Regions from separate parts of the Homo sapiens genome. Here all the other regions are linked to region 2. The links come from fine-mapping of genetic effects on gene expression. A gene starts in region 2. Each other region holds a variant in brackets. All regions are shown on one strand. Distances are between the middles of the regions. Region 1 overlaps LOC105373494 (a long non-coding RNA gene). Region 2 holds the start of FAM178B (family with sequence similarity 178 member B). Region 3 overlaps FAM178B (family with sequence similarity 178 member B).

The links. PIP is the estimated chance that this variant, and not a neighbour inherited with it, causes the effect. A credible set is the group of variants that fine-mapping cannot tell apart.
Region 1: its variant is the best candidate, but not a certain one, in a credible set for the expression of FAM178B in sigmoid colon (GTEx, PIP 0.71).
Region 3: its variant is the best candidate, but not a certain one, in a credible set for the expression of FAM178B in cerebral cortex (GTEx, PIP 0.83).

The regions. Positions count from the first base shown.
Region 1 is chr2:96,046,499-96,056,509 of GRCh38, forward strand. It overlaps LOC105373494 (a long non-coding RNA gene), which reads right to left. Exons shown (of 4, transcript XR_923085.3): 2 at 6,120-6,519; 3 at 5,628-5,905; 4 at 2,949-4,617. Among named protein-coding and RNA genes, the nearest start is that of GPAT2, 17 kb to the left of the region's middle. The variant G/T (reference allele first, on the strand shown) is at 4,586.
Region 2 is chr2:96,981,650-96,991,660 of GRCh38, forward strand. It overlaps FAM178B (family with sequence similarity 178 member B), which reads right to left and starts at 4,931. Exons shown (of 17, transcript NM_001122646.3): 1 at 4,592-4,931. The coding sequence starts at 4,664. RefSeq lists enhancers at 3,968-4,488, 4,489-5,009.
Region 3 is chr2:96,907,721-96,917,731 of GRCh38, forward strand. The region is part of intron 12 of FAM178B (family with sequence similarity 178 member B); the gene reads right to left. Among named protein-coding and RNA genes, the nearest start is that of SEMA4C, 43 kb to the left of the region's middle. RefSeq lists an enhancer at 5,516-6,203. The variant C/A (reference allele first, on the strand shown) is at 4,872.

The DNA of each region.
Region 1 (10,011 bases), 940 kb before region 2:
ATGAGGAAGTGGCTAAGATCATTAGTACAGAAATACACATTCTAACAATAAGATATATGAGGAAATAGTTCTCCAAAAAAGATACACAGATGGTCAATGAGCACAAGAAAAGGTGCTGAGAATCACCCAGAATAAGGGAAATGCAGATGAAAACTACAGTGAGATAGCACTTCATACCCACTAGAATAGCTACTGTCAAGAAAACCCGAAAATACCGAGTGTTGGTGAGGAGTGAGACATTAGACCCTTGTGCACTACCGGTGGGTATGTAAAATGGTGCCGCCACTGTGGACAACAACATGGCCATTCCTAAAAAAAAATTCAAATAGAATTACCGTATGACCAAGAATTTCCACTTCTGGACGTATTCCCAAAAGGATTGAAAGCAGGATGTTAAAGAGATATTGTATATCCAAGTTCATAGCAGCAGCATTCATAGGAACCAAAAAGTGGAAGCAAGTGTCCATTGATAGACGAATGCATGAACAAAATGTGGTCTATACATGCAATAAAATATGATTCAGCCTTAGAAAGGGAGAGAATCCTGTGATAGGCTACATCGTGGATGAACCTTGAGGGCATTATGCTAAGTGGAATAGCCAGTCACAAAAAGACAGTATTCCACTTACATGTGATACCTAGAATAATCAAATTCATAGAAACAGAAAATAGAATGATTGCCAAGGGCTGGGGCAAAAACGGAATGGGAAGTTAGTATCTAATTGGACACAGTGTTTCAGTTTCACAAAAGTAGAGTTCTTGAGATGGATGGTGGTAATGGTTGCACAACAATGTGAAAGTATTTGATACCACTAAAGTGTACAATTAACAGTGGTTAAGATGGGAAATTTTATGTTCTGTGTGCTTTACTACAATTTGAACCAGATACAACCTTATACATACATGGTAGGCAAAATTCTCAGCTGAACTCCAATAGGCAAGCACTTCTGTAATCCTCTCCTGGTAAATGTGCTTCTAATTAATAGATTCTAACAAAGGTGATGATGTGCCATATGGAAAAGGGGAAAAGAATTTGCCAATGTAATTAAAGTCCCTGATCAGTTGACTTTATGTTAATGAAAAAGGACATCATCCAGGGTGCATCTAATCAGGTGAGCCCTTTAAAAAAGGATGTAAAGGTATGAGACTATCTCTCCTGCTGACATTGAAGAAGCAAGTCTCCTTGAGTTCTACAACCACTCGGAGATGAATACTGCCAGCCACCTGAGGCAGCCTGGAATCAGATCTTTCTCCAGTGGAGCCTCTGATGAGAATGCAGCCTGGCCAACACCGGGTTACAGTCTGAGCAGAGCACCCAGCTAAGCCGAGCCCAGAATCCTGGCCCACAGAAAATGGGAGATGAAAAATAAATGGTGTTTTAAGCCACACAATTTGTGTTAACTTGTTCTGCAGCTGTAGAAAACTAATGCAATCTTTTAGGCAAAACTAATCTAGGAAGAGACAAGTATTGGAGCTGGGCACAGTGGCAGATGCCTGTCATCCCAGCTACTCAGGAGGCTGAGGTGAGAGGATCCCATGAGCCCAGGAGTTTGGGGCTGCAGTGAGCTATGATCGCACCTGTAAGTAGCCAGGGCAACAAGTGAGACCCTGCCTCAAAAAGAAAAAAAAAAAGAAGTCTTCATGTTGGGTGGGGAAGTGGGGAAGTTGATGAGGGCACTGCTTGTGGAGTATAGACCAGAGCCACCATTGTGGAGGGATTTTGATCAATAGTATGCATCCCTTACACCCCTGCTATTCCATTTCTAGGTAGAGATGTAAAAGAAATTGACACAGATTCGTCAAACATGCACACCAAGATGTTCACTGCAGAGTTCTTTGTGGTAGTGTGGGGATGGGGGCTGCGGGAGGCACCCTAGGGTTTCTATCCTGGGGAGAATGGAGAGACAAAATGGGAATGGTCCACACCATGGAGAATTATGCAGCCACAAGGAGAGATGAAAGGCACACATAGCCACATGGATGGGCCTGAACACAGGGCTGAGTTTAAAAAGGAAGAAGCAACATGGGAACCCAAACATTACCATTTGCAGACATTAAAAAACACATAAAGACTGTATCTCTTTTGAAAGAGCATTTTTAAAGCAGCACAGGAGGTGGGGGAATCTATGGGGAGCATGTTGCCCATGCAGGGGAAGGGAATGGGAGTGAGTGTGGAGATAAAAGAATAAATAAAACAAAAGTGGTTTTATTGGACCAACAATAATTCACTGAGTAGTTCAGCGCAACTTGAGGGTAAAATTAACGGCACCTGGATCTGGGGCAGCTGCAGAGGCAGCGACGTCCAGGCCTTTGTGCAGGGGGGCTAAGGTCACCCGTGCAGGTGGGGAAACAGTAAATGCCAATGAAGCAGGTGTGTGTGGTATAGAGCAAGCAAGAAAGGAGAGATTACTTTGGCCTAAGAGGGATATCTGCATTTATATTACTAATGAGTTTCCACTGTAAGCCACAGAAAGCCCGGCTCAAAGCGATTTTTTTTTTCTTTGCAAACAGAATTTATTGACTCAAGTGACTAAAATGTCCAGGCTGACTCCCTTGGGTGGGAAAGATGGTTGCCAGCAGGGCCAGGCGTATTCTCTCCAGCTAGGAAACCAGAATTGTGGACCTCCCTTTCTCAGAGGTTTCCACAAAAGCCCCAAGGCTGGTCCCCTTTGGTCAGAAAGAGTGACACGCCTGAACAAATCCCCAGGGCCAGGCCCGGGTCACATCGCCACCTGCAGACAGCAAGGGCTTCCAGCAGAGGCATGGCATGAGCACAAGCTCGTGGAGGGACGTCTTTGGGAACGAAGCTGGAAAAGCAGGAGGTGAGGTTCCATGGCTGCCAGCTCAGGCGTGACCTTCGCTGCCACTTACTCAACTTGGAGGCTGTTGGTGGATGGAGGAGAGCCCTGGAGCATTTCCTCCCAGAAAGGAAATGCCTCCAGAAGTGCCTCCCTCCAGGTCCTTCTCACTGCCAAAAAGTCCCTTTCCCAGAGAGGAAGGAGGCTCAAGGGCTCAGAGCGTTCTCAACACAAATGACTGTGGGGAGAGCCCTCGTGGGGGTCTGGGTCATTGCAAGAGGGAGCTCATGTGGATGCAAATCTATATAATCGGTTGCCAAAAAAGTACTGAGCCGGCCTGTTTTCATCCTGTACCAGGCGGCCTGCAGAGGACAGAATGTCCACGCTGTCTCTACAGAAATCCTTTCCGGCCAAGCCCCAGGGCCTGGGGGTTCTCCAGCACTTAACCACCAGCTTTCCTGCCCTGCCCGCACAGGAGCAGCCAGTGGGTGGCTGCCATTATTGTCTCCAGGGGCACTGGGGGCGATGCTGGGCTGGGTAGGGCTGTGTGGGGCTGAGGGCAGTGTGGGTTCTGAGGGTCAGGAAATGACCTTCCTTTATGCACTACCACAACACCTCCCACAAACCACTCCTCCTGCTGCCTGGGGTTTTGAACACAGTCCTGGCCTCTTTATGGCAGTGGCAGGCAGTGTGGTTTTGGAATGGCCAGCCTGCCACAGGAGGCAGAGCTCCCACTGTGCCAGGAGGCAGAGCTCCCACTGTGCCGGCAAACAATAAGCACTGTTGTTTTTCCCCAGAGTGGGGCTGCCCGGTACTGGTCTGTGCCTGTCTCTCTGGAGCAGGAAATCGAGCAGAGGGAAATGTGTGGATTGGTTAGAGTGCTGTCAGCTGCAAGGAACAGAAAACCCAACTCAAAGGGGCTTAAACAATCAAGATGTGTCTCCTGTGCCAAGCAGTGCAGAGGTAGGACAGCTCAGGGCTGGTTAGATCAGGGCCGCAGGAAGCCAACAGGGACCCAGGTTTATTCCACATTCCATGCTGCCCTCCTCTTCAGTGGGCCAGTCTGTTTTCAGGCCAGCTTCCCTCATAATCACAAGACAGCTGCCACAGTTCCAGGCATCACCTCCAGATATGACAACACCCAGCAAAAGAGACTCTCTTCTCCTGGATCCATCTTTTAAAGAGTAAGGGAACTTTTCCCAGAATTTCACCCAGCAGCTCTTCCATCATGTCTCACTGGCCAGAATTGCATCACAGACCTATCCTTAGCCAGTATTTGACAGAGGAAACAGGAAAGCCATGACTGGCTTGAAGGGCATGGACTACCCCAATAGCACAGGGTTTGGATGCTCCTGCAGATGCTCCAACAGCCTTCACCACACCAGGAGACAGAAGTTCTTCCCAGTTGGAGATCAGCTTTATTCACCATTGAGGATGTGATGTTTGGAGCTGTAGGGGCCATCTTGCAGCAATGGGGGGAAATTCAAGAACATCTCAGACTTGCTAACGCCATGCTTTGCCTTTACTGGGCCGTGAGACAATCCTGGGACCACATAGGTTTGTTACGTGAGTAAAATGAACTCCTGTTCAATGAGGCCTCCATTAGTTGAGTTTTCTTTACTTGCAGCCCAACTGACACAGAGTTCAGTTGTTCTGGGCAGTGGAGGGACAGGAAAGGCTCCAATGGCGGCCATTCTCCTTTGGGTTCCCATCCTCTGTGATGAGAAATCCTCGTAAAAATCACCCACCAGGACACTGAGATGGCCAAGTTTCTGCTGACCTTCCAT[G/T]TGTCCTTGCAAACTTCAGAGGAAACTGGACCCTGGGCAAAATGATGAAATTAGAGAGTCCCTGAGCCCTTCTTCTCGCCAGAAAACTCCACCCATGACCCAAATTCCCAGAGGACATAGGAAATTATCAGTTATAATTGCAAATAATAAAGACTTAGAAACCTGACAAGAGGGTCTTAAGCAAACACGATTTGGGGTTTTTCTATTCCTTGAGTAATGAGAAGCCCAAAGGTCAGGATCCATGATGGTCCCACTGCTGGGGCTGTGGTGAGGCTATAGGGGACCAGGGTCCTTCCAGCTCCCTGTGTTGACATCCTCACCAGGTGCCTTCATCCTCAGGGTCACAAATACCTGCTGCTACACCTTCAGGCAGAACTTTGTGCCCCAGGGAGGAATATAGGGAAGGGGAAAGGTACAGTGAAGAGCCACCAGGCCCAACAGGAAAGCAGTAGCTGTCCTGGAAGCCCCACTCTGAAGATGCCTGTCATGGGCTGTACTGTGTTGTGTAACCACCTTTGGCTTTGAGGGAGAGGAAGGGGAGAATGGCTGTGGACTAGGTAGCTAGCTGCGTCGGCCACCAGGTGTGGAGTCCGGAAACCTGGGACTCAACCCAACACTGCTTCCTGCTGCCTTCAGTAACCCCAGGCAGCCCAGGTCATTGCTGCAGCCTCAGCAGCCTCTCCTGCCTGGCAGAAAGTGGGGGAAGAGAACTGCCTCCATGAGGGTTCCTGAAGGCCGGGTGCTCACTTGGCCTTCTCCCCATCTGGGGCAATGGGTCCTAGGGCAAGCATGGGAATGGGAAGTGTGGCTTATTCAAGGCTCTTCTGATGTCAAGTGATAGAAATTGATTCAACTCATCTATAGGGAAAAAGGGCGGGTGATAATTAATTTATTTCAGACCCAATGGGCAAGAGGAGCAGTCAGACCTCAGGAAGGACCTGACCTCAAGCTAGCAAGCCCTTGGAGACAGAGGCAGCCACTCCTTCTGGCTCCCCGGCCCCAGGGTTGCCTGCCTCTGCTGTTCTCCCCTCACCCACTATACCTTCTTTCCCTCTGGATGGAAAGGGGTTTCTCAGCCTCACAGCTTCTGCATTCCCGTGAACAATGGGCTGCCAGCCTCTCTGAATTCGTATTTCACATTCCTAGGAGAGACTGTCTGATGATCCAGCTCACCCTGATGTCTGTCTCTTGGCCAGTCAATCCAGCCATCGAGTTAGAGCAGTTCCCAGAAAAGAGGGGCTGGATGAGGCTGACCAGCACACTGCAAAATTGACTTCAGGGGAGGAAGAGAAGCAGAGGCAGGAGGGTCCTCTTGGAGATCTGGGGGAAAGAGAGACAGGGCATTCCTTTAGGACTTGTGCCTCAAAGACCAGTGGGAAGAGACAGCTGGGTGAGGACAGGCTTCAGGTACTCTCATGTGTCCAGATCAAATATGGCTTTAACCCCTCTCTAAGTCATCGCAAATCTTTATTTTGCAAAGAGCAGAAAATCCCATTCAAATGGCTTGGCTGAAAAAGGGAATGTGTGGACCCACCTAACTGAAAAGTCAGAGCCAGGAGGGACTCAGGCATGGTTCGATCCAGAGGTTCAACATTTACTTGCAATATTTTCTCTGCAAGTTTCATTTTGTTTCTGTTTCCAGTTCTCTACAAGTCATTCATCTCTATTTCTTTGTGAGACAGTTTCATTTGAGGCTGGCTTTCCCCCTGTGGCACAAGTGGCTGCTTTATGTCAGCATTTCAGTGAAGTCCTTAGATGGGCTCTGAGTGGCCCAGCTTTTGTCACATGCCCCCTCCTGAACAAATCAACTTCTGTTGGGAGGGAAGGTAGTTTGCCGATTGGCTTGGTCAAGTCACAGTCTCCCTTCTTCTCACCCCCTTCAAGAAGGAAATCGGCTTCTTTGGGCTCACACCATCCCCCAGCAGATCTCTGGACTATAATCAAGAACAGGGAGAAAATGAAGCAAGTGTTCCCACACCAGTCATTTCCAAGAGCTGGCCAGTTAGCACAGAACAAGAAAACACACGCACGGGGCACTGGCATGTGGGCAGCTGAAGAAGGGCCCTGAAGATGTACAAGTCCTAATTTCTGGAGCCCATGAATATGTTAGGTTACATGGCAAGGAGAAGTTAAGGGCCCAAATGGGATTACGGTCACTAATCAGCTGACCTCGATGTCAGGAGATTATCCTGAATTATTCAGGTGGGATGTGCAAGAGGGAGGTAGGCGAGTCCGCGTGAGGGTGCGCAGTGTGAGAAAGCCTCACAACAATTGCTGGCTTTGGAAATGGAAGGGGGCTGTGAGCCAGGGCATGTGGGCAGCTCAGAGAAGCACAGAAAGAGATTCTTCTCCACAGTCTCCAGAAAGGAACGCAGCCCCGATGACGCCTTTGCTGTAGCCCAGTGACACCCAGGTCAGAGTCTGACCTCCAGAACTGCAAAATAATAGATGTGTGTTGTTCTGAGCCACTGAGCTGGTGGTAATTTGTTACAGCAGCAGTGAGAAACAAAAACACGGCATTCCAAGAGCAGGACTCCGCATGGCAGGAGTGACAGAGTGGTGCCCAGTGCAACGGTGTGTGACAGAAATACAACATGCACTGCAATGGGGATCTTAAGTTTTCTAGTGGCCACATTAAGAAAGAAAAAGAGGCCGGGTGTGGTGGCTCATGCCTGTAATACCAGCAGTTTGAGAGGCTGAGGTGGGTGGATGGCTTGAGGTTGGGAGTTCGAGACCAGCCTGGCCAACATGGTGAAACCCTGTCTCCACTAAAAATACAAAAATTAGCCAGGAGTTATGGTGGGTGCCTGTAATCCCAGCTGCTCAGGAGGCGAGGCAGGAGAACACTTGAATCTGGGAGGCAGAGTTTGCAGTGAGCCAAGATCGCACCACTGCACGCCAGCCTAGGCAACAGAGCGAGACTCCATGTAAAAAAAAAAAAAAGAAAGAAAGAAAAAAAACAGGTAAAATTAATTTCAATAACATATTTTAACCCAATATATTCAAAATACTATCATTGCAATGTGTCATCAATATACAAAATATTGAGAAGGTGTTTCCCATTCTTTTTAATCCCCAGTTTTAGAATTCAGTGTATATTTTACACACAGCACATCTCAACATTTCTGAGCTCCTTTTCAGTGCTCATCAGGCACACATGGTTAGTGGCTGCTGCCCTGGACAGCACAGGCCTAGTGACTGTACTTTTGGTTGTAAGGGTGGCAGTGGCTGGCATGAACCAGAACAGGGGTTTGTTTGTGACAATGACAAGGAGACCGCTAACCCCTGCTGATCTGTGTGTCCAGTTTTATTTCTCTTTTTTCTAATTTTTTTATTTCCATACATACCCTGCTTGTATATCAAGCTCTTTTCTAATCAGGGATCCTCAAATGACAGGAGTTGACCTCTGATTGTGTTTGTGCATTTCAAAGCCCAGAGCTGTGACCTCAGCCACGGTGGGCAGGATGGGTGCTGGAGAAGGGCATTAAGGCTCCCAGCTTTGTGGGGGAAATGGCATCTTCTTGAGTGAGTGGGGAAGTGCAAATAGAATATGCACAAGCTAGGAAGGACATTTTTAAAGCCTGTGCTTCGAACATTCTTCCTCTAAAGGATCAGGTGAGCTGGCTCAGAGCAGGGAGCCAACCGCCGAGCCAGGGTGAGAGGGCTTTGTATTTGGAGAGTGAAAAGAATACGGTTGTTTAGGCTTTGGACTCAGAGCATCAGAAACTCAGGAGAAATGAGATCAGCTGAAAAAGAAATGGGTTTGATGTTGTAGACCAAACATGAACAGTGGGGAACAGGCTGAAAAACGAGGGGGGAACAGTCAGCAGCTTCCACGGCTTCTCCCAAATGGAGGGAAGTGGGGCCAGCTCAGGGGACAGGCTGGAGGCTTATGACGGAAAGATGGTGGGGTCCAGGTGTGGCAGGACAGGAGGCAAAGCTGGGGGCTGCTATGGGACAGAGGGGGCAGAGGGAAAGTTGTGCTGCTAATGGGGTCACAAGAGTCACTTATGGCCTGGGGCCTTCAAGAACCAAGGGAAGCCCTCCCAGAGCCCAGCACCACCACAAGCAATGCTCACGGCTCCAGCCAGCAAGACTTGGGGTAGCAGCCCCCAGCCTCTCTCCCCATATTGGGGACAAAAGAGAACTGGAGAAGCCAGAGAGAGGGAGCTGGCCAAGCATTTCCGGAGGGCACAGCCCAGGCCTCCACCATCCTCTCCCCATGTGTGCTCAACCCTTAAACACTTTGCTAAGCATTACAGGTCAGGCCCCTCCCCTGTGTGTTCAACCCTTTAACACTTTGCTAAGCATTACAGGAGTTCTTCTGCTAGAAGTGGCCAATCAAATGTCCCTGGGCTTGGCTCTTGGTCCATGGCAACATTCCTTGCTTTTGGAGAGGGTGTGGGGTCCAGGAGCTAAGTGTACCCTTCAGCCAAGTCATATATCCTCTCACTCAACCTCACAATAATCATTCCAGGTGGTATCATTCTTACCCATTTTACAAAGGTGAGGTTGACCCTGTGTAATAGTCAGGGTAGGCTTGGTTACGCTGCTGTAACACACAGCTCTAAACATCTCATAACTTAACACAGTAGTTTACCTCTCACTCCCACTCATGGGGGCTGGCGAGGGAATCTGCTCCATGCAGGTCGCTCAGGGATTCAGGCTGATTGAGGCTCTGCTGTCTGGAACAGTGGCCTCTGCCAACTCCCTGGCAGGGGAAGACACAGATGGAGGTGCGTACTGGCTTCTTTAGAATTTGGCATGATCCTGCCTAACTAGAAAGGTGCTGAGTAGTCTGAGGAACATCTGGGCTGTCTGAGGATCCCCTAGTCCCCTAGATTGGGAAGTGGGAGCGAGGCTTAACTGAAGCGTGTCTAATGTCAAAGTCCTTGCTGTCAGCCCCGCCTTATGCAGCTTCCCCCCTAAACCACTGTGAAAACGTGTGAGCTCTGTGGTAATGTGCCAATTCCAGGGGTGTCAACACCATGACCCCCAGATATTCTCATACACTGCCTCCTTAGCCCATCCCAGGCAAAGAGGGCTCTGCAAACCAGGGACCCTGCGAGGCCAGGGGACAGTGGGATTATACTGCCCCATCCCCTCTGGCCTGCCTCCCGCCCTTCCAGCCTGCTCACTGTGTCCCTGCTGAGTCCCATGACTCTCAGCTGCCCTCAGGATCCTGCCTCCGAAGAGTCCTTTCCTTCCTGTGGAATCTGGAGCCTGGTCCTCCTTCTCCAAGGCAGCACCTGCCAGGTTCCTCACTGGCAGCAAGCAGCCTTGCTAACAGCCTTGCTAATCCGTTAATTACCTGCTTCTAGCAGAAGAGCTGTTAATTGAAAACTCCACCCCCTCCTTTAATTGCCTGCCTGCCTCTGGCTGTCTAGGCTTCCCTGGGTTCCCTCCAGGCCCGCAGCCCTTGGTTC
Region 2 (10,011 bases):
AGAATGGCGTGAACCTGGGAGGCGGAGCTTGCAGTGAGCCGAGATGGCGCCACTGCACTATAGCCTGGGTGACAGAGTGAGACTCCGTCTCAAAAAAAAAAAAAAAAAAAAAAGAAAGAAAGAAACTGTCCTCTAGGCTGGGCACAGGGGCTCACACCTGTAATCCCAGCACTTTGGGAGGCTGAGAAAGGCAGATCGCTTGAGTCCAAGAGTTTGAGACCAGCCCAGGCAACACAGTGAAACCCTGTCTCTACAAAAAAACGCAAAAATTAGCTGGGCATGGTGGTGTGCACCTGCAGTACCAGCTACTTGGGAGGCTGAGTGGGAGGATCATCTGAGTCCAGGAGGTCAAGGTTGCAGTGAGCTGTGATCGCACTACTGCACTCCAGCCTGGGTGACAAAGTAAGACCCTGTCTCAAAAAAAAAGAAAAAATCTTCGTTTATTCCAAAGTCATGAACATATTTTCATATGCCAGCTTTGAGAATTTTTATTATTTTGTATTTCACACTTGGATCCATAACCCACACAAGAAACATTCTTCACTTTTTAATTGATGTATAACTTACAGTACATAAATATATATATTCATATAGTATATGTACATACTTTATATATATTATTATTTTATTTTAGAGACAGGGTCTGGCTGTGTCACCCAGGCTGGAGTATAACGGTGCAATCTTGGCTCTGCAACTTCTGCCTCCCAGCGTCAAGTCATCCTCCCACCTCAGCTTCCCGAGTAGCTGGGACGACAGGCGTGCACCACCATGCCTGGTTAATTTTTGTATTTTTTGTAGAGATGGAGTTTCACCATATTACCCAGGCTGGTCTCGAACTCCTGAGCTCAAGCAATCCACCCGCCTCAGTCTCCCACAGTGCTGGGATTACAGGCATGAGCCACCGCACCTGGCCTAATTTATTTATTTATTTTTGTTAGAGACAGAGTCTGTCTCTGTCATGTAGACTGGAGTGCAATGTCATGATCACAGCTCTCTGCAACCTTGAACTCCTGGGCCCAAGCAACCCTCCTGCCTCAACCTCCTGAGTAGCTAGGAGTGCAGGTTCACACCACCATGCCCAGCTAATTTTTTTTTTTTTTTTTTTTTTTTGTAGAGACAGGGTTCTTGCTATGTTGCCCAGGATGGTCTTGAACTCCTGGGCTCAAGCAATCCTCCTGCCTTGGCTTCCCAAAGTGCTGGGATTACAGGCGTGAGCCACTGCACCCAGTCTAATTTATTTTATTTTAGAGATATAGTCTCTCTCTGTCACATAGACTGGAGTGTACTGTCATCATCATAGCTTCCTGCCACCTTCAGCTCTTGAGCCGAAGCAATCCGCCTGCCTCAGCCTCCCGAGTAGCTAGGACTGCAGGCACACACCACCATGCCTGGCTAATTTTAAAATATTTTTGTAGAGACAGGGTTCTTGCTACCTTGACCAGGTCAGCCTTGAACTCCTGGGATCAAACAATCCTCCTGCCTCAGCCTCCCAAAGTGCTGGGATTCCATGAGCCACCATGCCTGGCTCTAAATGCACAAATCTTAAGTGTTCAGCATGATTGATTTTTATGTACATATGTGTACATTTAGTATAAATGTGTGTCTGTGTGTGCATATATATACACATATACATACATATGGTAACCATTACCAGATCAACATATTGAATATTTCTTACATTCTAGAAGTACCTCCTCCAGTCAATAACCCCAAAGGTTATACTACTCTGCCTCTATCACCACCGATTATTTTGCCTGTTCTTGAACTTCACATACATAAAATCATATATATATATTTTTGAGACATAGTCTCGCTCTGCTGCCCAGACTCGGATGGTGTGATAACAGCTCACTGCAGCCTCAACCTCCTGGGATCAAACAATCCTCCTGCTTCAGCCTTCTGAGTAGCTAGGACTACAGGTATGTGCCACCATGCCCAGCTAATTTTTATATTTTTCTGTAGAAACAGTTTCATTGTGTTGCCCAGGCTGGTCTCAAACTCCTAGGCTCAGGTGATCTGGTCACCTCAGCTAACAAAGCGCTGGGATTACAGGCGTGAGCCACTGCATCCAGCCAAATCATCAATTTTGTGCACTTCTGCATATATTTTATTCAACATTATGCATGTGAAAATCATCCACGAACTACTGCTAAATGTATGTTGTTGCATGCTATATGCCTGTAGCAGTAGTTCATGCAGCAGTTCAGTAATCTTTATTACTATACAATATTTCATCATATGAATAACTACTACTTATTTATCCATTCCGCTGTTGATGAGCATTTGAGTTATTTCTTGTTTCAAGGTATTATGAATAAATCTGCTATGAATTTTTTTTTCCAAGACAGTTTCGCTTATTGCCCAGGCTGGAGTGTAATGGCACAATCTCGGTTCACTGCAACCTCCGCCTCCCGGGTTCAAGCGATTCTCCTGCCTCAGCCTCCTGAGAAGCTGAGATTACAGGTAGGTGCCACCACACCCAGCTAATTTTTAGTAGTGATGGGGTTTCACCATGTTGGCCAGGCTGGTCTCGATCTCCTGACCTTGTGATCTGCCGCTTCAGCCTCCCAAAGTGCTGGGATTACGGGTGTGAGCCACTGTGCCCTGCCAAAGTGGTACATAAAAACTTTCACTCCGCCACCAGGAAGACAATTTGCCCAACCTGTTCAATACAGTTCCCGCTCAACAAACCCCAATTTAGCATCTTCTATGTGTCAGGCAGTATGCTGAGCATTGGGACCTCAAGGATGAGGAAGATGCAGTCTCTGCCCTAGAGGAGCTTACAGCAGCAGGAAGTTTCTGTCATAGGACAGACCCAGGGCTCACCAAGACTCAAGCAGATGATGAAGCCTGGGGCTCACTGGCCCAATCAGCGTATTCAGACTGGCTGGCTGCTTATGAGGCTCTTGGGCCAGGGCTGCCTGCTCAGTGGGCAGCTGACTCTAGCTGCTGCAAAATGCCTTTCACTCAAAGGTGCTATCTACCAGTGATTATATGGCATTCCAATTTTACCTGGAAGGGAGATGCAGCTACCAGCTGTTTCTTCCCTCTCCCAACCACAAAGTAACACATTTTTCATTTGTCTATCTGTTGTTTCCAGGTTTTTGCTTTTGCCAATCCCCTCCCTCACATGCCTTGAAACAAGCACTTTCAAAGACAAAGACATAAACAACAAAAGGGTGCAGGCTGAGGTGGGTCATCTTCTCTGCCTGCGTCTCCAACTCTGGATCCTGCAGTTACTGGACTCAGGCCATGGCTGACTCCTTCATCACAGCTAAGATGCTGCTGGGTTTAAGGCACTGTGACTTTCTGTGCCACTAAGACCGACAAAAAGCTGCCAAGTGAACGATGACACAAAGAAAGACACAAACTGTGGGACCCAGCCCAACTTCAGAGCTGCTAAAATGTGAACAAAAATGCATCCCGGAATGGATGGAAACCGATCATTCTAGTTGGTGTGACCTGCTCCAGTGCCTACAGTACGTGTCCTGACAGCGTGGGAGGGGATATGAAGGCCCCCCAGTCAAACAGGAGACAGCGTTAGTCTCCAAACTTAACTTTGTTATCTCTTTCCCTCCTGGGGCCCAATACCCGCCAGCCAGGACCTGTTTCTCCTCCATCTCACATTCTTTCCAGGTTCAGGACTGAAGTCGTCTTGTTCAGCTCCTTGACTTGGCCATGCTCACTCTACAATGCAGCCCATGGATGGCGCCCCCTCTGCCCAGCACATCCCTCTGCCTGGGCTCTTGTCTCCCCGAATCCTGCAAACCCCAGCCCCAGCCTTTAGCGTTCAGCCGCCCTCCCCGCTTCCCTCATCCTCCCTCGCGTCCTCGCAGTGAGATTTCAACATGTCATCTCAGTTTTTTTGTTCTTTTACTTTCCTGACTACAAGAAAAATAAAATAATCTGTCTTAAAGTGTAGCATGAGGCCAAATAATTACGGAATCCCAAGTGCTTTGGGCCCTGATGTCAAAAGAGCCAAGATGAATTCAGAATATTACAATGGTGCTGTTTCTGCGAATACTGCTTTTTCAAGACGCCTTATTCCTAACATCATGTTTTATATCCATCCTTTTAAACAAATATTTAATAGCTTGGGAATGCTGGCGAGAGCAGCGGCTCCTGTCAGCAAGGACTGAGCTCACAATTTGAAAGATGAAAGGAGATGCGTTCTACCCACAAAGAAAACGGTCTCCAGCATCATAAACTCCACATCCATCAAACCGGGCAGGGGCTGGGAATAGAAAGCCTTTCTGGAAAGAAAACACCAGCTACCCTTTGCACCCTGGGGAACATTAAAAATCAAAACAAAACATGCCACATCAACCAAAACATAAACCAGTTCTCAAACCAATCTAAGGTTCCACCCCACCAAGGCCGGCCGCGCAGTGGCCTGTGGAGAGGAGGGCCCGGCTCACGTCGGAACCCGAACCACGCGGGGTCGCAGGAACCTGAAAAGCGCCAGAGTAGCCCGGCGGCCGCACCGGGGCTGACCTGCAAGGCCTGGACCAGCCAGGAGTCCCAGGGAAGTCGAGTGCTCTCTGAGCGCTAACCACGCGCCCCTGCGGTTCCTCGGCCTCAGTTTCCTTACCTGTAAAATGGAGCCGCTGATCCTGCCTCCTGAGTTGTGGAGCGAGGCCCGCACCTGGAAGCCTTGGCCACATAGGGCGGGAAGGGCAGGGCTCCGGGGTGAGGGAGGGTGGCGGGAATTCGCACGGCCTCAGAGGACGGGGCCAGCTAGCCGGGAAAGGAAGCAGGAGCAGGCTCCCCAGGCGGCGCAGTGGGAGGACCCCAAGAGTTGCGTCCCTAGATCCAGGGCCGCCAACGTGGAACCTAAAGATCCAGTTCTGGGGATTGAGTTCCGACTCCAAACCAAGCGGCCAGCTCACAGCCGCCGCCGCCGCCAGCTGGGGAGCTCGCCGGCCAAGTGCGCACCCTCTTCCTGTTAGCCCTCCACGTGCGCGCCCTCTTCCTGCTCGCCCTCCACGTGCGCATCCACGTGCGCGGGAATTGGCTGGCGGAAGCTCCTGCCCCCAGGCAGTCCTGGGTCACGCGCACTTGTAGTAGCTTGCATTTACCAAGACAGTGAGACAGTGGCCTGGCGCGGTGTCTCATGCCTATAATCCCAGCACTTTGGGAGGCTGAGACGGGACGATTGCTTGAGCCCAGGAGTGAGAGACCTGCCTGGGCGACATGGCGAAACCCCGTCTCTACTAAAAATACAAAAATTAGCCTGGCGTGGGCAGGGCGCGGTGGCTCACGCCTGTAATCCCAGCACTTTGGGAGGCCGAGGCGGGCGAATTGCCTGAGGTCAGGAGTTCCAGACCAGTCTGGCCAACATGGTGAAGCCCTGTCTCTACTAAAAATTAAAAAACATTAACCGGGCTTGGTGGCTGGCGTGCGCCTGTAATCCCAGTTGCGCGGGAGGCTGAGGCAGGGGAATTGCTTGAACCAGGGAGGTGGAGGTTGCAATGAGCCGAGATCGCGCCACCGCACTCCAGCCTGGGCAGCAGAGCAAGACGCCGTCTCAAAAAAAAAAAAAAAAAAAAAAAAAAAAAAAAAAAAAAAAAAAAAAAAAAGCCGGGCATAGTGGTGCAGTGCCTGTAGCCCCAACTACTTCAGAGGCTGAGGTGAGAGGATCACTTGAGCCTGGGAGGCGTAGGCAGAGGTTGCAGTGAGCCGAGATCGTGGCACTGTACTCCAGCCTGGCGAAAGAGCAAGCCCCCATCTCTAACACACACACACACACACACACACGTGTGAGATAGCTGTGTCTGTTTGGCAGTGATGAGCTTCCCTTTATGGGAGATTTACATAATTATTCATAAAGGAGCGGGAATGGGCATTACTGTTAAGCATGTTACGGGGTCTCCCAGATGTGCATGTGCGTGCTAGTACACCACATCACATGTCTCATTAGCATTTTAATTCCTCACCCAGGGGTGTGTTTTTTAGCATTAAAATGAGCATAGGTCATTCCAAGGACACTCTAATCATGGGTTTCTGCACTTGTGTGAATTTGGGGATTTTCCCTTCTGCTGTTCATCCTCTTCGCTGCAGGATGTTCTAACTAGGAGCCTGATGCAGTTTATGCACCAGTGGGCGGTTTGTTCTCTACATCAATCTGGCAAGTTCATTCCCCTTTAAAGGAGGCTATGACCACTGTATCTAACCGACCTCATTTTCCCCCTCAGAGACTTTGGGTCCATGTTCTTATGAAATGTGGAGGGCTGGGTCATTTTTTCTGGAGCTGCTTCGTGCTGAGACAGGACCAGGGCCCGAAAGTCTCTTCTTGCCTGATTTAAAGTGATAGGGGTCATATCCTCCACTGGGATAAGTTGAAATCCTTGCATAACTATCAATCTAGGAATTGTTGTAACCTAGAAGACACAGACTTTAAAGGAGCTTAAACAAGCAAGGACCAAAGGTCAGTAGTAATAAGATGGCTATTGTAGGTCCCATGAAAGGTAGCAGAATGAAGCATCACATCATTATTCAGCAAGCAGAAGAACAAAAAGAGCTCCTACAAATAGGAGACCTGAGATGGGACTACCTTATGTTAAAGTAATATTAATCTCTTTATTTGGGGTGTTGGCATCTTTTCTTGAAAATGAATGTTAGGTCTTCTATAGGCTTACAAAAGGATTTTTAATTTTTAGTTGTTGATGTAGAGTCCTGTGGAAACGTAAGGGAAACAGTTTTTATCCTAGAGAGATGCACCCAGCTGGCAATGTCCTGGATTCTCTGGACTATGGTGTGTTATGGTGGTCAGCTGGGCTTTTGAGAGTGCTCCTATGAGAAGGGGTTCAGTTGGTTTCATTGGTTTTAAAGAAGCCCCCAACGAGGGTAGCAACAAGGGAGTTAGGCATTCACGTCCTTGAGTCTGCAAATTAAAGGTTGGGTGGCTGGGCACGGTGGCTCACGCCTGTAATCCCAGCACTTTGGGAGGCCGAGGCAGGCGGATCACGAGGTCAGGAGATCAAGACCATCCTGGCCAACATGATGAAACCCCGTCTCTACTAAAAATACAAAAAATTAGCCGGGCGTGGTGGTGGGCGCCTGTAGTCCCAGCTACTCAGGAGGCTGAGGCAGGAGAATGGCATGAACCCAGGAGGCGGAGCTTGCAGTGAGCCGAGATGGTGCCACTGCACTCCAGCCTGGGCAACAGAGTGAGATTCCATCTCAAAAAAAAAAAAAAAAAAAGGTAAAAAGGTTGGGTAAAGTATCTGGTCCGGGTTTTTCATCAATTCCCGTGGCAGTGCAGTGTTTGGCCTATTTGGCCTACTAGGGTCGACGGCAGAATGTAAGGACTGACAGGCTGGTCCCTGTATGTAATAGAAAATTAGCTACACCTGCCACGTGCAGGGTCACTGGATTCCTCTGTGGTAATGGGGACTGAATGACAGCCAGTGTTAGCCTTGGGTCTCCTCAGTCTTTAGTCAGGGCCATCAAGGAATTGGAAGCCCCTGTCTCCCTACGGAGTTGGGGGCAGTCCTGCTTCCGGTGACTGGCATCTCTGCATTGTGGATATGGTCTAGGTGGAGCGGACTTTTGGGCATTTTGTCCCTTGGTCTGGCAGTTTTGGGGCCAGTGTCCTGGTTTTAAGTGTAGCAGGTGTCCCCAGATTGGGGCTTGGTCTGGACTGGCTTGTTCTCTCTGATAGCAAGGGCCAATAATCGGAGGCCTGGTTTATGTCTCTTGCCTCTTCCCTCTTTCACTTTTTAGCCTCTTCTACTCTGTCTCATTATAGAAGACTTCAAAGGCTACATTAATTAGCTCATTCATTGGTGCCTGGGGACTTACAGCCAGTTTTTGTAACTTTCTCTTAATATCTGGAGCAGATTGACTAATAAAATGAGTCCCCAGAAGAATTTGACCTGCCTCAGAGACAGCATCTACATTGGTATATTTTTCTAATGCCTTTACAAGGCACCCCTGTGAAGACTCAAAAGGACCATATAATATTTCAAAGGTGCTGGGTTGCAGATTGGTCTTGGGAGCCGCTCTTACTTGGAGGAACGCTAGAGGCAATCACTTTAATAAGGACTCAGAAGTCTCTTGCCAGAGCTTCGCCAGAGTTTTCTTTACAAGTAGCTTTTTCTAGCTTTCCTGAGGATGGAGGTCTCCAGGAAGCATGTAAATGATCACTTACTCCTAGAGTGGTAGCACTTGCTGGGTTATTTTGGAAACAAAGGAGGGGCCATTGTCGCTTTGGAGTGACATAGGTAGCCCAAATCGGGGAATGATTTCTTTTAAGAGGCACTTGTGCCTTTTCTGTTTTGGTGGAGTAGGCTTCAATCTATCCCATGAAAGTATCTGTAGAGATCAGTAAGTGCTTAAATCTTTATACTGGTGGAACTTAGGGAAAGTCTAACTGTCTGTCTTCCCCTGGGTACCTTCCTCTCCTCTGTACTGGCATCAGTAATGGAAGTGGCCTTATTTTCCTTTCTGGGTTATTGATAGAGTAAAGTGGTCTCGCTGTAGTGTGTGCTTTTACAGTAGTAGCTAAGCCTGTTCCCTTAAGGGTTCATGTGACCAAAGCGTTAGAGAGCCCCTTCCTAGGTGTCTGTAACCCCCTTTGATTAATTTGCATTGATGACCTTGAGGTATTAAAATTTTTGAATTTTGGGGCCGGGCACGGTGGCTCACGCCTGTAATCCCAGCACTTTGGGAGGCTGAGGTGGGCAGATCACGAGGTCACGAGATCGAGACCATCCTGGCTAACACGGTGAAACCCTGTCTCTACTAAAAATACAAAAAAATTAGCCAGGCGTGGTGGCGGGCGCCTGTAGTCCCAGCTACTTGGGAGTCTGAGGCAGGAGAATGGCGTGAACCCGGGAGGCGGAGCTTAAAGTGAGCCGAGATCGTGCCACTGCATTCCAGCTTGGGCGACAGAGCAAGACTCCATCTCAAAAAAAAAAATTTGAATTTTGGGTCCACCATCATTAGGGTCTTGGTATTATCCCTGTTCAGTTGCCCACTCCCTTTCAGTTTGTGTGTGTGCAGGCACTAGCTCAGGAGCCATAGTTTCTGGGATGGGAGCCCCTGCTACAAATGGAAGGGACACAGCCTGTTGAGCAGTTGCATTTGCTAAATTATCATTTTTTTTTTTTATTGTTGTAGAGTTCCCTCTTTGGTGTCCCCTGCAGTGCATAACATCAACTGGTAACTGCTTAGTCTTTGGGCTAAGTCTGACATTGAGAAAAGAATGTGAACTCGAATGGTCCCTGCCTCTTTGTTAGTTAATTCCCTACGAGGGAGTAGCCTGTTTTCTGGTTTGAGTGGGTGTCCTAGCGCGACTGGGCCCTTCTGGGAGTGCTGGGTGAATGGGTTGATATGGAGGAGGTGCAGTAGAAGACTGCAAGTCTGGTGAGGAAGGACCACTAGAAGGAGTAGAGGCTCTAGAGGTTTGAGGAATGATCCTTGGACTAGATTTGAAGAAGGAGAGCTGTTAGTGGGAGGCATACTTCCTAATACAGTGTCATGAATTACATCAGATTCCCTTGAACCCTTCTGAACAACATGGGCATAACACATTTGTCACTGGTCTCTAAGACACTTGTGGGTTTTAATTTTTTTTTTTAATAGAGATAAGGCCTCACTATGTTGCCCAGGCTGGTCTCCTGAGCTCAAGACAGCCTCCCACCTTGGCCTCCCAAAGTCCCAAAGTGATTACAGGCATGAGCCACTGCGTCTGGCAGAGACTTGTCTTAATGTAAAACCGTTTGGTTAGAGGGAGGAATAATGTCAGGTTGCCCTGGGCCCTTGGGGAATTTCTGACCTTCCTTTCCTTTTATAAAAAGGTTTAATTATAAAATGGTATTGTTGGGCCAGGCACGGTGGCTCACACCGGTAATCCCAGCACTTTGGGAGGCCGAGGTGGGCGGATCACGAGGTCAGGAGATCGAGATCATCCTGGCTAACACAGTGAAACCCCGTCTCTACTAAAAATACAAAAAATGAGCCGGGTGTGGTGGTGGGCACCTGTAGTCCCGCTACTTGGGAGGCTGA
Region 3 (10,011 bases), 74 kb before region 2:
GCCTCCGCAAGGGGCACCCAGGAAGGCAAAGGCACCAACCACGTGGGCTGCTGGGATGTCGGGCAGTGACATAGGCCAGCACAGCCCCTCTGGAGCCCCTTGTCTTCACTCCCTGGGAGGAGAACTGGGCCCTGCCAAGACTGAACTGCCCTAAAAGGCTGTCAGGCACCTGGCCAAAGGCATGAGCTGCCTTTTCCAGTCTCCAGGGCAGCTCAGGAAGCAACGGCAGTGGCCTGTTCCACCGTGGCAATGCTGCCTGACATGCTGCCTCAGGGCGTCCGCCTGGCTCGCACCCCGGGCCTCTTGTCCATCAGGCTGCCTGTCAGCCACCTGCTCGGCACTCCTTCCCTGGACTCTTCATTGCGCACTTGCCAGGTGGGAAGAACAAGGGGGTGGGCTTAGAAGCTGGTTGTCCCTCCCGGGGGTCTGCAAGCCCACAGCCACCAGACTGCCTGGTCATCCACAGACCAGTCTGAGCACACAGAGTGTGGACGGGAATAGACGGCGGGACACAGTCGGCCACAGACCCAGACGAGTGGACCACCACAGGGCAACATGAGGAACCCGTCTATATATAACCACGCACATTGACGTGGAGAGGCCCCACAAACCAGGTGTTGAGCCAAGGAAGCCAGACCCAAGGGAGAATGCTCTGCATGGTCCCATTTATATAAATGTTTAAAAACAGGCAAAATTGGGCTAGGCACAGTGGCTCACACCTGTAATCCCAGCACTTTGGGAAACTGAGGCAGGAGGCTCATTTGAGGTCAGGAGTTCGAGGCCATCCTGGGCAACATAGGGAGACCCCATCTCTCAAAAACCAACCAACCAACAAAACAGGTAAAATGAATCTATGTGATGGAAGCTGTGAAAGTGATTACCTCTGCAGGAGGGAACGCCTGGCAGGGGCCTGATGGGGCTTCTGGGGAGCGGCAGACATTCTGTCCCATGGTCAGGTGGTACATGGATGATCTCTTTTGCAAAGGGCACGAAGTGTCCACCTATGATATGGGTCCTTCCATTCACACGTATTATAAGTAAATTAAAAGGTACACATGAACAATCATACCAACTTCCATTCTCATCTCCCTCTTTGTATGATAAAAATCACAGAACCTCAGGCTTAGAAAACACCTTGAAGTCTGCTGGGCGCAGTGGCTCTCGCCTGTAACCCCAGCACTTTGGGAGGCTGAGGTGGGAGGATCACCTGAGGTCAGTTCGAGACCAGTCTGGCCAACATGGTGAAACCCCGTCTCTACTAAAAATACAAAAATTAGCCGGGTGTGGTGACAGGTACCTGTAATGCCTGCTACTTGGGAGGCTGAGGCAGGAGAATCACTTGAACCTGGGAGGCAGAGGTTGCAGTGAGCCGACATCACGCCACCGCCCTCCAGCCTGGGCGACAGATCAAGACTCTGTCTCAAAAAAAAAAAAAAAAAAGAAAAAAGAAAAAAGAAAACACCTTGAAGTCACCTAATCTAGCTTCTGCATAGTTATCCATTTTAATTCTCTTTGCCACACCCCCAATAAGTGTTCACTTCAGCAAAGGAAGTGCAGTATCTGCCAAGACAGCCCAAATTCATTTACCGGACTAACCAAAGGAAATCGTTCCCATATTTTGCCAAAACCTGCCCTTCTGGGACTTCCACTCAAAGCTTCTGGATCCTGTCCTCTGGGGCCTCCAGGAGGGAGCTCTCCGCCAACCTAGGTCCTCTACGCTTGGAAGAAGTTGCCACATTCCCGTGGCTGCCCCTTCCTGCAGGTGCCACAGCCCCCTCATTCCCATCTTTTTGTATCTTTTTTTGCCATTTTGGTTTGGGTCCTCTGACGGCCCTGGGGGTTGTCAATGTTCCCTTTCAAGTGCGACACTCGGAGTTGAGGCTGATGCTCATTTTCTTGGCAGCCCCACAACACAACGCAGTTAACAGATTGAGCCCAAAGTCTTTTTTTTTCACACGTCTTGCTGTCAAATCCCATTTCCCAGATCCTGTTCTTAATTGTGCAGCTGGGCCTCCCTTTTCAACTCAGTCCATCATTACAGTCTGTTGAGATCTTCTGGGATCTTCGGTCTGCTGTCAGTTGTATTCATGTCATCTGTGAATCTGACCATTGTTCCATTAATAGCCTCATCCAAAACACTGGGCCTGCCCTGGCCAACCTGTGAGTGGAGACAGAACTCGGGGTGGTGACAGGGCCTGCCCTCTGGGCACACTCTGATGGCCAGCAGCACCTTTTGATAATGAGCCCACTTCATTCTGTCATCATTTGACCCGCATTCCTTCATGCCGAACCCAGCCTATGGTGACAGCCTCTACCAAATGCCCAGGAAACCTACATACAGGCACTGCACAGTCCTCTCTGGAGTATGATTCTGGTTGACCTGTGGAAAAGTGAGGCTTGCCTGGTATGATTTCTTGTTAGGACTCCTAGAAAGCAGTGTTTCCTTTTCTACGTATGTGCTCCCAAGCCGGAATCCCCTAGAGAATAACCTGGAGGAGCACATCAAGCACCATTGCCCCCATCTCCTGGAAGCCCTCCGCCTCCAAAAGTCCCCATGGAGCCACGGCCCCAACTTCATGTCTCCCAGGAGCAGTGAGACGCCGTCCCACCGGGGAGACGGCCTCCTCTGCACAGTGAGGTTGGTCATGCAGCCTCCCACACTCTCTTAGGCTTTAACCCCCTTCGACGACCAATATTTGATTCCAAATGAAAAACTGTTCTCCTTGACAAAGACGGCAAAAGCAAAATACGAATTGTGTAGTGTTGTTCCGTCTGCATCAGGGCTAACGTTTTACTGTCAGCCCCAAACCGCACTCCTTGCTTCAAAAGTAACTACACAGAAACTCCTTTTATGGCCTTCGGCATTTCCCAACAACACTCCCGCTGGTCCACGCCGTTTGTCCGGCTACCTTACTTTGGTGCCCTTCTTTCCAAACCTGAGACCACGAACAAGCTCTGAGGGGAGCCCCTGCAGCCTTTAATGCTTCCCTTCTTTTCCTCACTGGGCTCCTTTGTAATCCATATTCAAAGCTTCAGTGCAAGATCTCCCAGCCCACCTGAGACATCTCTCTTCTTAATTTTTTTTTTTTTTTTTTTGAGACAGTCTTGCTCTGTCGCCCAGGCTGGAGTGCAGTGGCGTGATCTTGGCTCACTACAACAACCTCAGCCTCCTGAGTAGCTGGGACTACAGGTGCACACCACAATGCCCGGCTAATTTTTGTATTTTTAGTAGACCCGGGGTTTCACCATGTTGGCCAGGCTGGTCTTGAACTCTTGACCTCAAGTGATCCACCTGCCTCAGCCTCCCAAAGTGCTGGGATTACAGGTGTGAGCCACCGTGCCTGGCCCTAGAATCTTTTTTTTTAAGTTCTACCTCTTTATGCTTCTTTGAAATCTACCCTCCAGAAGCAGACAAAGCACGAGTGTGCTGAGTGAGTCCCCCTGCCATGCCAGGCTCTGTGGACTCAGGGAGTACGGCCACAGCACCTGTCCCTCTGATGCTCACGGCCCGCGTCAGTGAGGGGGACAGCCTGATGGGCCTGCAACAAGGGCTGCTCGAAGAGGAGATGCCTTGGCCGGAGCCTCGTCTTGAGGCTGAAGAGATGTGAACCAGGCAGAGGAGGACAATGGGAAGAGGCCTCTCCAGGAGGAGACAGATGCGGAAAAGCTTGGAGGCAAATGATCATCTTGAGTTGGGGTGGCTGCCAAGTTCTAGGACGCGGCAAAAGCGTGGAAGCCTGCAGGGAGCAGGGTGGCATGTGAGCCTGGGAAAGGGGGCACCAATGCCCTCCAACCCCAGGCTGCACCGTGGCATTTCACCCTGAGGGGGAAAGTCTGAAAGATTTTATGCACATCAGCAATGCGAACACATGAGCATCTGAAGGACGGTCACACTCCGGGACAGCACAAGGTGGAGCTGGTGGAGAAAGCCTGGAAAGAGACAGTGGGATGCTCTGGCGGAAATCCAAGGGGGTTGCAGGAAGAGCTGCACCAAGGCAGCGACAGGGAGGGTGAGGAGGAATGAGCACTGTGGGAGATTGGGGAGCTCCAGGGCACCGAATCTGTCCATAGGACTCCAGGCCTGGGCAGTGGGCAGACACTGGTGCCACTCATGGAGCCATGGAAGACAGGGAAGGGGTCCTCCTGGGAAGGCGGTGACTCCTGCTTCCCACATGCTGAATCCCAGACATGTGCCACACAGATAGGTGCTCAGCAGCAAAGTCTGGCCACAGGTATTCATTTGGGAGCTGCTAGCATGTGCCTGGAGCTGAGGCCTCGGGTGCAGATGAGATGGTGTCTCAGGCTGGCTTCCCCAGAAAGTAGGCTCTGAAATGGATATTAGCAAGCAGGGAATTTACGTAGGGAGAGAGGATGCAGGGAATTTATGCGGGGAGAGACAAAGGAAACCAGGCTGCCACGCAGCCAGTGAAGGCCTCAGCTGACCCCACAAGGACTCCGGAGCCAGCAGGGTCCTTCGGAGACATCCTCAACTAAGGCAACGGGGAAGATCTTTGTGTCTCAGCACTGGGCTGCTGCCAAGGAAGGGGCCCAGCCCTGGTAAGGTGACCACCTTTGGCAGAGGTGACTCCTCTGCCACCCCCAGCAGTGGAAAGAGTGCCCCAGTCCTGGATCGGGGCAAGTGGGGGGCACCTAGCACCCCCGACTTCATGGGCCTGTGTCACAGTAAGGGCTAGGGTGGAATCCTGAGGCCCACCAAGACTCGAGGGCTGGTGGGGGAGGGGTATCCCTGAGGGCAGCTGAGGAAGCCAGGAGGGCCCTGGGAAGCCCAGGGAAGGAAGTGCTGGTTGCTCATCAGGAAGAGCCCGAGAGGTCCCTGGTGACGGAGCAGCTTGGCTGGAGTGCCTGGTGCC[C/A]CAAGAGGTGTCTCCTCAGCTCCTGGCCCTTTAGGTCCTTCAGACATCCCACCTGAGAGGGAGCCGCGTCCTCTCCAGCCATGTCCCCCTCCTGGCGATCATGGCCTGACCGCCGCCCACCTTCACGCTGCTGTCTGCCTCCCAGCTCCAGCCCAGGCTCCGGATGCGACCTTCATCTTGCCTCTTGTTCCTTCCTCCAGGTTTGGTGCCCTTCTGAAATCTCCAGGTTGACTGGGCCTTGACTGCCTCCTTCCAGACCTTCTGGCCTCACCCGCCCACAGTGAGAGCTCTCTGTGACACTCTGAGCTCCGAAGAATCCAACCTGCCCGAGGGTGGGCAGGATTCAGCCATGAGTGAAAGAGAACTGGGGGAGGAAGCTTGGAGCTGCGGCAGGAGCTCGAGGGAGATGTGGGTGGAGACAGAACGGCTGTTTTAAGGTAGGAGACGCAGGAACGCATTTATTTGCTGCAGAGAAAGCTAGTGAACAAAAAGCAAACGGTACAAGAATAAGGGATGACTGCAGAAGGTTTTGGGAGAGGCAGGACTGCCAGGATCCAGAATTAAGGGTGCAGTGGGCAGCAGGGAGGTGAGAACTGAGAGCACTGCGTTTGTCTAGTGGGGGTGGCTGTTCGCTGGGAGTGCAGAGGCTTCAGCAGCAGGAAGCATGGAGTCTGCTAAGGTCCCCAGGAGGCTGGCCAGGAACTCGCTGTGGCTCCGGGCAGCCTGAAGGGGTCAAGAGCCAAGGTGGGGACAAGGGACATGCATGTGGCATCACTGTTTGGCCGTGCAGTTTCAAGTCTGAGAACAGGCAGGCAGGGAGTCCACAGTGGAGAAGGGGTCCAGGAGCTGACCCAGGGCCGGGCAGTGGTAAGGGGAGAAGGAAAGGTGGGGCCCTCTGGCCCCACAGTGAGGAAGTGAACAAAATGGGAGGGAAACGAGGGTTTCGAGGGAAGCCACGGTGCATCTGCGCCTGTCCCAGCTCTTATCCCCAGTGCGCAAGGACCTGACGAGCGTGAGGCTGCTCTCTCCCTAGCCTGTCTGCACTTCCGCTCCATCAGTCAGTTCCTCCTTGGTGGCCACACAGAACCTGCTTGGCTGGCTGCTCCAGACATAAGAACACTGAGAGGATCCTGGGGTGCTCCAGAATTCACAGGAAGATGGAGAACCTGGCCAAGGGGTGTGGAGCAGCAGGGTCCCTGGCCAGAAAAGCCTGTGAGGACTGCCGTCCCTGAGTCCTTTCCTCAGGAGCATCCAAGTGGTTAGGCCTGGGTCTCGCTCCCAGAGGTGGAACAAAGGAGTGCCTGACTCCCGGCTTCTGTGCAGAGGAGGGTGCGAGGAAGACGCCTCCTCAACACAGGAAGGAAGCCCACACCCCCCGCAAACCTCAATGTATTTCCATCACAGGAAGAGATCAGAAGAGAGCCAAACATTGTTGGCTTTTACTTATTTGCCAAATATTTACTCAGCACCCGTGATATTCTAGTCCACGCTCTGTTCTGGGTGCTGAGGATGCAGACATGGGGGAGATGGACGGGGCCCTCCCGCCCAGGGAGCTCATACTCATGGGGAGGGCTGGTCATAGTTCACTTCTGGTCCTGGTAGTCCGTGGAGAAAAATGAAGGAAAGGGAGGTTGTGCAGAGCCCTGAGGTGGCAGCTCATTTGGAAAAAAGGATCAGGTGAAACCTCTCTGAGGCAGTGACATGTGAGCAGAGACCACCATGATGAGAAGGGGGGAGTCTCCTACCAACGTGCGGGCATGAGGGAGGGTGGGCATCAAGACACAAGTGCCCAGTGCACCGCAGGGACAGGGAGAAGAAGAGCAGAGGGCAGGGCCACACCGCAAAGGGGCCTTAGCGGCCACCTTAAAGACTCCAGGCTTCCTTCCAAGATGATGCAAAGTCTTGGAAGATTCTGGAGCAGGGAAGTGACTCAATTGCTTATGACAGTTCTTTTATGGTTCAGTGTTTTAGGTGTCATCATAATGTTGTAATTATGTTTTAAAATACCCACCAAGGGCTGGGCACTGTGGCTCATGCCTGTGATCTCAGCACTTTGGGAAGCCAAGGTGGGAGGATCACTTGAGCCCAGGGGTCTAAGACCAGGCTGGGGAACACAGGGAGATCCTGTCTCTACAAAAACTTAAAGAAGTTAGCTAGGTGGGATGGTGCATGCCTGTAGTCCCAGCTACTCGGGAGGCTGAGGCAGGAGGATCACTTAAGCCCAGGAGGTCGAAGCTGCAGTGAGCCTGGATGGCACCACTGCACTCCTGCCTCGGCGAAAGAGATTCTGTCAACAACAAACAAACCACCAAGACCTTATCTTTTTAGAGACACGTACTGAATAAAATAAGTCTAATCATTTGCTCTGATTCACAATGATGTGGGGCAGGGGTGGGGGGCAATGGGTGAGGGAAGGAGGAGTCTCCACGGCTGTGTTTGCTGAGATGGAAAATGGGTACATGGAGTCCATTTTACTAGCCTCTCAACGTTTGTATATGTCTTGAAATTATCTATAACCAAATTTTTTTTTTTTTTTGAGACGAAGTCTCACTCTGCCTCCTAGGTTGGAGTGCAATGGCACAATCTCGGCTCACTGCAACCTCTGCCTCCCGGGTTCAAATGATTCTCCTGTCTCAGCCTCCTGAATAGCTGGGATTACAGGTGCATGCCACCATGCCCAGCTAATTTTTTTTTTTTTCTATTTTTAGTAGAGACGGGGTTTCACCATGTTGGCCAGGCTGGTCTTGAACTCCTGACCTCAAGTTATCCACCCACCTCGGCCTCCCAAAGTGCTGGGATTACAGGTGTGAGCCACCGCACCCAGCCAACAAAACTTTAAAAACTTATTAAATAGAAGTGATTCTGGCTAATTGGTGAGAACTGGCTGTGGGGGTAAGAGCAGGAGCTTGGAGGCCGACAGGGTCTTTAGAAAGGGGAAATAAGAGGATGGGCACGGTGGCTCACGCCTATAATCCCAGCACTTTGGGAGGGCGAGGCGGGCAGATCACAAGGTCAGGAGTTCAAGACCAGCCTGCCCAACATGGAGAAACCTCGTCTCTACTAAAAATACAAAAATTAGCTGGGTGTGGTGGCACGCACCTGTAGTCCCAGCCACTTGGGAGGCTGAGGCAGGAGAATCGCTTAAACACGGGAGGCGGAGGTTGCAGTGAGCTGAGACTGTGCCATTGCACTCCAGCCTGGGCGACAGAGTGGGAAAAAAAAAAAAAGAAAAAGAAAAAAAGAAAGGGGGAAATAAGCCCTAGGCAACCAAAAACACTCCTATTAACCTCACACCCAAAGATGGCCTTTCTTTTCCCCTAAACAGAATTGGCATCACACTTTACATATGGCTTCAAAGCCTTTTTTCCACTCAGCGTATTTCATTAACTTTCCCATTTTCCTGTGACATCATTTTTAGGTACCATATAATACTCCGTAGCACGGGCAGAACTGAATCGATGGTGGGGCACTGAGGCAATTTCCAGTTCTTCACTATCATGACATTGCTATGCCAAACATCCTTGTCAATGAATCTTTGCCATCTAGTTCCCCAGAAAACGATCTAGCTTTTTGAAGGGTGTGCACATTTTAAAGTCATTTGCTTGATTTTGCCAAACTGGCCTCCAGAGGGACTACTGACCGCATCTCATGAGCAGGGAAGCATATGCCTGTTTCCTCACATCCTGCCAACACTGGGCAGCACTGTCCTTTCGGATTGATTCTGGTCTGCCAGGCAAGGAACTCTACGTCATTGTCAGGGCTGGTTTCGTGAGCCGTTTTACGCAGGCTTTGTCCATTCCTCCATCTGACCAGGCAGCCTGCGGGAGCTGGCTTCATCTGACCTTCTGCTTTGAAGCAGCGCACACAGGATGTTTAATGAATAGCCGCAGGCAGTGAAGGAAGAGGATCCCCAGAGCCTGGGACATCAGCTTTCAGTAGAGTGCAAGCAGTTGCAGGAGCCCTGAACAGAAGTGGGGATGGCATGCTGCTCTTCCCAAAGCTGCCTGAGCTGCCCCAATGGCGCCACCTCCCAAGGTGGATGTTCCTCCAAGAACCTCCTCTTCCCCTTGGCTCTGTTTCAGGTGGTCTGCCTTAGTATTCACTTTCATTTTTCATGGTTAGGCCCAGCTCTTCCTTACATTTGCAGTGCATCCCATGAAGTCTTGAACGCTGAGGCAGGGGCTGCGGGTGTACTGCATGAGTGTCAGCAGGAGTTCTCGCTTTGTGCTTAACCAGTCAGTCGAGCAGACAAAGAGTGTGACAGCCCTTCGTACACCAATCTGCCCTTCTTCCTGGGGTCAGTCTGGGCACAGAGCCCAGTGGGGCAGCCACCAGTGAAGGCAGCCAGTAAGCTCTGTGGCCGCCGCGGGAAGCACAGTGGAGCAGCAGCTCACTGAAGACCCACAGTGAGTACAACGCGGCAGGAAAAAAGAATTAGGAGCCCTTTACAACCCAATCAGGGATGACGGCCAGAACACACCCTGAAGAGCAAAGAAGGTGCGGAAACGGCGGGTACGTGCACACGCAGACAGAGGCTGGCGGCCAGCCAGGTGGCTCTGGCTCAGGGGAAGAAGCGCATTTTCAACATCAAATTTGAAAGGAGTACTTTCAAAAAGGTACTCCTTGGTACCTTACGAATTTTGTTTTATTTGAATGCTTTTATCTATTTAGAAAAATAAAATCAATAACACTGATCCCGATAAGGCACCCTCCTTCCTAGTAAAGCTCTTGGCACAAAGCATCACCCTGCTGACGTGGCTGCCTGAAAGGCAGGCGCAAGATGCTCTGTTTCATTCATTTCCTGGCATTTAAAGGGCAATTGCCATGGGCCCTGGAGCTACCCACAGATTCCACAAAAGACACTGATTCATGAAATCACAGTTTAACATGGCTAGCAGATGAAGGAGTGAAGTCATAAACTTAGGATATGGAGAAGGTAGCTTCAAATCTGTCTTGAAAGGATGAATTATTAAGACCAAAAAGCTGAGGCATGGTGGCTCACACCCGTGATCCCAGCAGTTTGGGAGGCTGAAGTGGGAAGATCACTTCAGCCCAGGGATTTGAGATCGGCCTGCACAACATAGGGAGACCTTGTCTCTACTAAAAATTTAAAAATTAGATGGGTGTGTTGGCATCTGTC